3 separate regions of the Homo sapiens genome follow, and all the other regions are linked to region 1. Evidence: fine-mapped expression QTL. A gene starts in region 1. Each other region holds a variant in brackets. All regions are shown on one strand. Distances are between the middles of the regions.

Region 1 (2,762 bases):
CGCCTTGGCCTCCCAGAGTATTGGGATTACAGGAGTGAGGCTCCACGCTGGGCCTCAACTAATGATATTTTCAATTTACAATGGGTTTATTGGGATGTAACTCCATCCTAAGTAGAGTAAGTAGAGGAGCATCTGTACAAAACAAGCTCCCTACCCTTCCACTATGTACCTAAGAGCAGGACATACATTTTCAAAGGTGTCCCACCTCCTCTTTCTACCAGGGACAAAAGTTAGTCACCAGAGACAACTTTAGACCCTTATCAGCCAGCGATGGCGCTAGAAGAACCTACATAACACACTTTACTCACTACCTGTAACTACCATTAGTTTCTCGTATCTCTGCCTTCCCACTCTGCTGTTTTTGGAAACTTCAAACTGCTTTCGCCATTTCTCCCCAGTTATTGTTCTTTATTGTAAATGCTACGTAATTCCCCCATTCTAAGCCACCTGTTTGAGTTACTCTTCCTTGAGTTTTGCCCATATAAGATGTACATGTTACTAAATTTTTCTTTTGCCAATCCGAGCTTTGTGATAAGGGCCGCAGTGGAGAACCTAGAAAGGTAGAAAGATTTTCCCCCCTTCCTACAGCCCCAAGGAGGGTTTGAGACACGGGTTCCGTTTTTTTCCTTCAGCTCCTCACTTTGTAGATTCCATTCAGGTCATTCCCCTTCCGTCACCATGCCCTTTTTTCATTGAGTAGATATATCTGATGGGCCTGGGGTTTTCTTAGGTACATTTCAGGCCCAGGGGAGACACAGTTTCATTCTTTTTTTCTTTTTTATCGGACAGCCTCCTGAACCAGAAGAGGTTCAGAGCGACTCCCACAGTTTCACTCTTGAACTTGGGTATTTTCCAAATTGCCTCAGCAAAAGGCTGCTGTAGTCGGTCTTCGTAGCTTCCTTCTCCAGGGTATCCTAGCGGCGCGCAGTGCAGGAGCCTCGCACCGCTCCCCGACGGCGGCTGCCAGCTTCCAGACAGACGCCGACCCGGTGTTCGCAACCAGGGCGCAGGCCGGGCCCGGAGCGTTTAGAGCGCCCGCCCCTCGGTAAGGAACCGTCCCTGAGCCACAGGGCCTGACGCGACTGCAGAAGGAGCGTGGGGTCCTCCGAGGTTCCCCTTCTCTAAATGTGCACCTTCCTCAGGGAGACCTTGTGCAGCTGAGGGAAAAGTCACCACTCAGGGTTTCGGGCCGGGGACCCAAATAAAAGTGCTGCCATCAGCAAAAAAAGAAAAAAAAGGCACGAAGAGGAGGTGGGCGGATTCCCAAGGCGGTTTCGCCCACTAATTTTGCCCAGAGATGACTCTGAGGTCTCTGAGCTTAATGCTTTTCAGCTGTTGTGCAGACTCGCTTTGCCCTCTTATAAGCCCACTATGGGAGTTCCCGCTACACGCCGGCCCAGGGGTACAAACGACAACGCGCCGCCCTTGGAGCGCGTCGCCGGGCCCCGCGCTGCGCAGCCTCCAGCGGCGCTGCGTGCCCTTCCTTTTGCCCGTCTCCAAGATGGCGGCGCCGCCGCCGCCCCTCCTCCTCGCCGCGCAGAGCCGCGCTGCGCCGCGCGCTCCCGCCGCCCCTCCCCACGCGAGCTCCACCCAGGTCGCAGGCAGCGCGGTCGGCGGCGGCTATTTCCCGCCATTGTGCGAAGTGAAGGCTAGGGGCCCGTACGCGCCCGCCTGACTGTCGCCAGCAGCTCCTCGGCGGCCCCACCGCAGCCGCCGCTCCCTGAGGCGCGGGAGGCCCGCGCCCCGCGGCTCGCTGTGCGTGGGAGGGCGCGAGCGAACGCGGGCGAGGAGCGGCCGAGCCGCTGAAGAGGAGCTGGGCGCCGGCCGCCCGGCCGCGCTCGGCCCGCGGATCGCCTCCGCCCGGTCTTCGCCGGCCCCGGCCCCTGGCGAGATGCCGTGTGGGGAGGATTGGCTCAGCCACCCGCTGGGAATCGTGCAGGGATTCTTCGGTGAGTGGCGGCGCCGGGGGGCGGGCCGGGCGGGCAGCCGAGTTTGCCGGGCCCCGGGGCAGGGCCCCGCCGCGCGGCCCCCACGCGGTACCATCTCGAGGGCTCGCGTGGCCCGAGACGGGGCCCCGGGGCCTGCACCGGCCCCAGCTGGGACAGCCTCTCCCCCGGTCGCAGCAGGCAGGGGCAGGAGCCGGGCCGCAGGTACCTCCCACCTGCCCGAGTCGCAGCTTGGGAGCCGCCAAGGTGAAGTCGTGGGGCGCGGGCTGTGATTCGCGGGCTGTGATTGACGGCCTCGCTCCCAGCCTGTGGCAGGGCCAGGGCCCCGGCCCCGGGCGCAGCAAACTCGGAGGTCCTCGAACCCTGGGGAGGGCCCGCAGAGCCGCGGGGAGGGAAAACCACTTTGCCTGTGGGAAGCCCACAGGATATTTCAAAACTTCCGGTGCGTCGGGGAGTGCTCGCTTGCACAGAAGTTGGTTCTAACTCCTGTGCTACCCTCATTCTCTCTTTCAGAGATAAGATTTAATGTTCATAGCTTAGTTTTCCTGTTGGGATGACTTTAGAACCCATCTAGTCTGGATCTGCTCCTGTGCCAGAGCCAGCAAGAAATATTGAGCTACTTGAGTTTGTACACAGGGCTGAGAATCCTGCAGGCGAGCTTAGTAAATTTTGGTTGCGATTGCTGTTGCTACTTTACTGCGAAGGGTATACGAAGAAAAGTTTATATTTGTTGTCGTTAACTGGGCATTTTGACAACCGTTCCATTCCCCAGTGTCTTTTTACACGTAATGAGTGGCGGAGTCAGATCCAGCTAGA
Region 2 (2,762 bases), 42 kb after region 1:
GTATATGCTTTGGTACTTTCACCCATATTGCCTCCTTTGTCTAAGAGGCTGACATGCACCTTACTACATCAGTCAAGGAACCATGTTAATTTTCTTTTCCTTACAAAAATGCACATCATTTACATTTACTCTTTTGATAAAGGCAGTTGAAGATGACTTTGTGGAAATGCGGAAGAACGACCCTCAGAGCATCACTGCTGATGATCTTCACCAGCTGCTCGTGGTGGCTCGGTAAGTGGCGCACGTCCATTATTGCTGTTTCGGTAAGCTTGTGTATATGTCTTCTGAGTTATTCAGCAGTAACTGAGGCAGAATTCTAAAAACGGAAATGAACTTTTCCTTTTAAAAACGCTGTATGAAAGGGCTCATTGAGGGGGAATCGAGTTTGGCTGGTGATCTCTTCAGTGGAACAGGCATGCTGCTTGTTCTCTAAGCTTCAAAGAGTGAGCCACTTTCCAATTCTGACTCTTCAACGATTTCTTTTTAGAAGCCTAACTTGGCTGTTGACTTGTGTGTAACTACCATACGGTCTTGTCTCCTAACGTGCTCTGTGTTTTCACAAAGTATTCCTAGGTCTTAAAAAAAATTTAAAACTTACTATCCCAGCTCTAGACTTAAATTTGTTTCTGTGTTTCAAACCAGGTGTCTGTCTCTCAGTGCTGGTCAGACAACGCTGTCAAGAGAACGATGGCTGAGAGCAAAGCAGCTAGAGTCTTTAAGAAGAACGAGGCTTCAGCAGCAAAAATGTGTGAATGGAAATGAACTTTAAAGATGTAATACCTATGAAGAGTAATGGGCAAACTGTAGCCACATAATTGTAAAATTCAGATATTCATTTATACCACATTGTTTTATAGGTAATTTCTATCACAAACCAGTGACATTTCCTGAAATCAAGCCTGGTAACACCTGATGTTTATATGATATTCAGTAAGGACTTTTACCTTACTGATTTCATGGAGCTTTTGAAGTTTGTTTTATAATAATTATATAAATTAGTAATGATGTAAAAAAAGTATTTGATATTAAAAGTTTAATATTGATAATGTTGCTGATTGTACCATTTCCTTAGCTTCAGCTGAGTCATAGGCCAGACTGTTGAAATGCTGAAATGAAGAAGGTTGTTGCAGTTTCAAAGTCAGAGGAATCGTGCTTCGGATTTCTTATGTTTTCTAGTTCTCTGTTTTTCCAGTTCACAGTGGGTTGGGGTGCATTCAGTAGTCCATCTTTGGGGAACGGAGGCGTACTTGCCATTGATTCACATGACTACATGAAATTCTGTACTGTCATTTCCCAGATGTTTGGCCACAGAAACTTTTTCCCACTTAACATTTGTTAACA[G/AACAG]CCTGCAAAACTAAACTTGTACATGGCAGTGGTTCCCAGACTTTTGTATTTTATGGACCGGTAGTAATATTTCCAAAAATCTGGGGTACTATAAGGTTGCCAATTTACCTTGCCAAGTAATCCGAATAAATCACTGTATTATCACCATTTTTTTCATAAAAGGAAAGGACAATCTATCTCTGAATAAGAGGAGTCCTTTAAACGGAATGAATGTGGCTTTTGGGGGCAAAAGAAACCAAGACACTACATTGTCTTTATTTTCTCCTATCCCAGTGCATTTGAGAACCATGCATAAGGGAATGCTGTGCTACAAAGCTGTGCCCAAATATGAAAACAAAATAGGAAACTTAAAAAGCAATACCCCCTTTAGAAAGTTTTTATTTTCTTAAATGTCATTGAGTTGCTTTGATTCTATTGGATTTTTGGCATTTTTTATGGGATCATCAGTTGGTTCCAAGTATGTTAGATCAGCTAACATCTGCTACTCCAGTAACAGCCTCGTACAACTGCAGGTAGGTTTTCTCCAGACCAATTAGTTTTAATAGAGCAAACTAACAACAGACTGTAGTAGCATGGTTATGGCAACCAGAATCTTCAGAAAGGTTAGGACATTACTTTTTAAGCTGTCAGTGGTATCAAATAACTTACCTAGTTGGAGGCAGATAAAGGATCCCTTACGTTTTTTCCTATAAGGCCTAAATTGAAATTGTTAACCAAGGAAACAGGGTCAGCCTTGAAAAATCAAGGAATTCATTGTACCTAATAACTGAAGTAAAAATAACTAGTTGTTCAACTTTTCCTAAACTCAAATCTATTTTTATAAACAAATGTAAATAATGTTTATATTAGAGTTGAACTGGTTTTCATTTTTATAACTGGTAGACTAGACCTTCCTTAAACTTTTAGAAATAAAATGAAGGCTTCACTGGATTTGTGAGGATAAAATACATTTTCTTTAATTGTCCTAGAGCAAAGTACATTAGTCACCATGTGTTTTTTGTGCCAATGTAAATTGTAATTTACCAAAGAAAAATACATACATTGCTTGGTCTTGCAGAAAAGTTCCCTTGAAAGAACCTTTCCAATAAATAAAACGTCCCAAATTAGCAGTACCTTGGGCTGTTTTTCATGAGTAAGAAGATTCACCATCCCATGTGATCTGTGTGGAAAAAGACCATGTCCTCTTGGTGGAAGACATGAGAGAGCTGAACTGAAGTGGAGGAGGTGGTGCAAGAGGGACCTTCCTGCTCAAGGCCCGCCCAGGCAGCGGAATGGAGTGCAGTGCTTGGCTGCAGAAACCCTTTGTCCCTCACCTATATATACACGGACAGTCAAGTTTGTTGCTCTAACGTAAGGCACAGCGTTAATCCTGTATGGCCAGGAAACTGAGTAGACTCCTGTGTAACCCTGTTTGGAACTTT
Region 3 (2,762 bases), 110 kb before region 1:
GGTTCTGATTTATTAATCTTAAGGAGAACTTCACAAGCTAGGTACTATTCCCCCCACCTCCATTTCACACGTAAGAAATATAAGACTCTGGCTGGGCATGGTGGCTCACACCTGTAATCCTGGCACTTTGGGAGGCCAAGGCAGGCTGATCACTTGAGGTCAGGAGTTCGAGACTTGACGTCAGGAGTTCGAGACCAGGCTGGCCAACATGGTGAAACCCCATCTCTACTAAAAATACAAAAATTAGCCAGGCATGGTGGCATGCGCCTCCAATCCCATCTATTTGGGAGGCTGAGGCAGAAGAATTGCTTGAACCCAGGAGACAGAAGTTGCAGTGAGCAACAGAGTGAGACTCCGTATCAAAAAAGAAAACAAAACAAAACAAAAACCAGAAATATGAGACTCAAAGAGGTTAAATATATTTTCTGAGTTCGCACAGTAAATAGGTGGTAGAGCCAGGATTCAAGCACAGGCAGCTTGACTCCTGAGCCTACACTGTCATATGAAATGACTTGTCCTATAAAAATGAAACCTAAAGTACAGCCAAGGATAAAAAGGGGAAACTAAGATCAACAAAGGTGAGCAGGATGCTGTTCTCCTCCTCCAGAGGCTTACTGTTGTCCATGAAAGGAATTCAGTCAGGGACCCTGCTGAGTCATCTGCATTTGTTTCCTAGCTGGGCACTGATGCCAACTCGCTGGGCAAACTGGGACAAATTGGTAAACATTTCTAGGGCTCTAAGAGAGAAGGAACAGGAGAGAGATGAGAACTCAACAATATTTTAAGTTCTTTCCAACTTTAAGAATCCTGTGATTCTACATACAGCCCTACCTAAATAGCTGCAATCAAAATATTCTCCAAGTGAGAATATATGACATTCTTAATTGCAGAAGACTCGATAAATTACAAGCCTTTTTAAGAATGAAAGTTCTTCTTTCAGGCAGTGCTAAAGAGAATGAAAACAAAAAACTCGTTTCCAAGAGCTTTAACCTTGAGTTCTTCTGAAAGATTTCCAAAAAAGTTCTCTTTCTGGACCTATGGCCAGTCTAAAGTCTTCCATACACAGTTAGGAATATTTGGCTTCAAGAATGTTGAGCTCATTTATATTACGTTTCAAAGGGACTTTCTTTGTGCCAAGTCATGGTGAAAACCGTGAAGAGAAATGCCTTTCAAACCTTATGGGACTTAAATGTCTCTAAGAACATCTTCAACTTAAACCTAGCCTAGTCAACAGCACAGACCTTAAAAAGCAGTACATATCATAGTAATTCATTACTGTGAAATAATGCCAGTATTTGCTTCACAATGGGACTCACTAGTTTTTCTTTTAAATAAACTCTTTTGTAGCATCATAAATGGAATTTTGTGGATAAACAGTGGAGTCCTAAATAGGGAAGAGGAGTCAGGCTGGTGGGAGCAGGGGAAAGCAAAAAAGAAAAAGCAGATAAGCTGTAAGTCTGCCTTTCTTCATGGTCCAGGACACAATCTTCCTGTGTCTAGCTGTCACCAGATCCTCAGC[T/G]GATACAAAAATGCAAGCTAGCTCACTGCAACCTTGGCGTTACCAGTAGTGCACAAAGCCCTCTTCAGCACACGGCCCAGGCACCATTCTATAAAATTCCCAGCAAGCCTTTGTCTCCTTACAGTCAGCTCCTCTCATGTTGACTTGCCTGTTGCTTTCTTGCAACATATTTTTCTTTACTACAACACCTTTTTAATGCATGGATGTATTTTCATACTTTTTCTAATAAATCTGCCTTTCTTTAACTGCAACTGTCTTGTTAAATTCTTCCACCACCCACACCATTGGCCCAGAGAGTTGCCACTTACCCACGACATACACCATTATCTTTACACAACCTTTCAGACATAAAATAATAATAGCTAATATTTATTCAGTACTTACTGAGGTGATAGTTCCTTGATGTGTTTTGATGTATTAATCTTAAGGAGAACTTCACAAGCTAAGTACTGTTTTCCCCCATTTTACATGTAAGAAATACAAGATTCGAAGAGGTTAAATAAGTTTTCTGAGTTCACACAAAAAATAGGTGGTGGAGTTAGTGTTCAAGCACTGACAGTCTGACTCCTGAGCCTACACTATTACATAAAACAAGGTGCCCTGTAGAAATGAAACCTAAAGTACAGCAGAGGACAAAAGGGAAGCTAGAATCAACAGCTGATTTGGCATCCTCTTCAGGATCGTCAAGATGTAAAATAATTTGGATTATCTATGTTGACATTTCAGGTCCATCTAATCCAAGTCTGATTGAAATTTTATAAAGTTAAGAAATAGTATCACCCCAACAGACTCAAATGGACTCCATTAATTCACAGTTTCCCATGTTTCAGTTATTTCTCCACCATCTGCATGATTTTTTCCATATTCATGTATCACCCGAACTATTATTTACCTAATAATCTGATTTAAATCATCTACTTTATTTCAAAAGGAGTACATAAAATCTTTGAACTCACTGGTTTTGGGTGCTAGTTATATTTTTAAAACTATCTTTAAAATAAATACATAGTCACTTAAATTTTTAAAACTATTCATGTATTCTCTAAGATTTTATTTATTATACTTATAGCAATGTATACCACAGTTGGGACATGCTGAAATTGAAAACGTGTGGCTTCTAGAACTATGGTAGAATTAAGAGATGTCAGCCAGAAAGTCTTCATTGGAAGCCAATAGGAGTCTAGTCTAGTATGTATGAGAATGTCTTTACCAATAGAGACAAATGCAAGGAAAGTTCAACCCA

Direction of the effects. Alleles are on the strand shown, and positions count from the first base shown. SD is a standard deviation of normalised expression in the study named. Not every link is listed here.
With allele G in place of AACAG in region 2, the expression in tibial nerve of the gene that starts at base 1,633 in region 1 is higher (small effect, 0.36 SD a copy in GTEx).

The links. PIP is the estimated chance that this variant, and not a neighbour inherited with it, causes the effect.
Region 2: its variant is the best candidate, but not a certain one, in a credible set for the expression of MCMBP in tibial nerve (GTEx, PIP 0.65).
Region 3: its variant is the best candidate, but not a certain one, in a credible set for the expression of MCMBP in whole blood (TOPMed, PIP 0.53).

The regions. Positions count from the first base shown.
Region 1 is chr10:119,871,714-119,874,475 of GRCh38, reverse strand. It overlaps MCMBP (minichromosome maintenance complex binding protein), which reads left to right and starts at 1,633. Exons shown (of 16, transcript NM_001256378.2): 1 at 1,633-1,949. The coding sequence starts at 1,892. RefSeq lists enhancers at 1,104-1,273, 1,139-1,298 and a silencer at 1,529-2,178.
Region 2 is chr10:119,829,481-119,832,242 of GRCh38, reverse strand. MCMBP (minichromosome maintenance complex binding protein) reads left to right here. Exons shown (of 16, transcript NM_001256378.2): 15 at 143-231; 16 at 643-2,762. The coding sequence ends at 769. Among named protein-coding and RNA genes, the nearest start is that of MCMBP, 42 kb to the left of the region's middle. The variant G/AACAG (reference allele first, on the strand shown) is at 1,342.
Region 3 is chr10:119,979,925-119,982,686 of GRCh38, reverse strand. No RefSeq gene overlaps it. Among named protein-coding and RNA genes, the nearest start is that of MIR4682, 23 kb to the right of the region's middle. The variant T/G (reference allele first, on the strand shown) is at 1,520.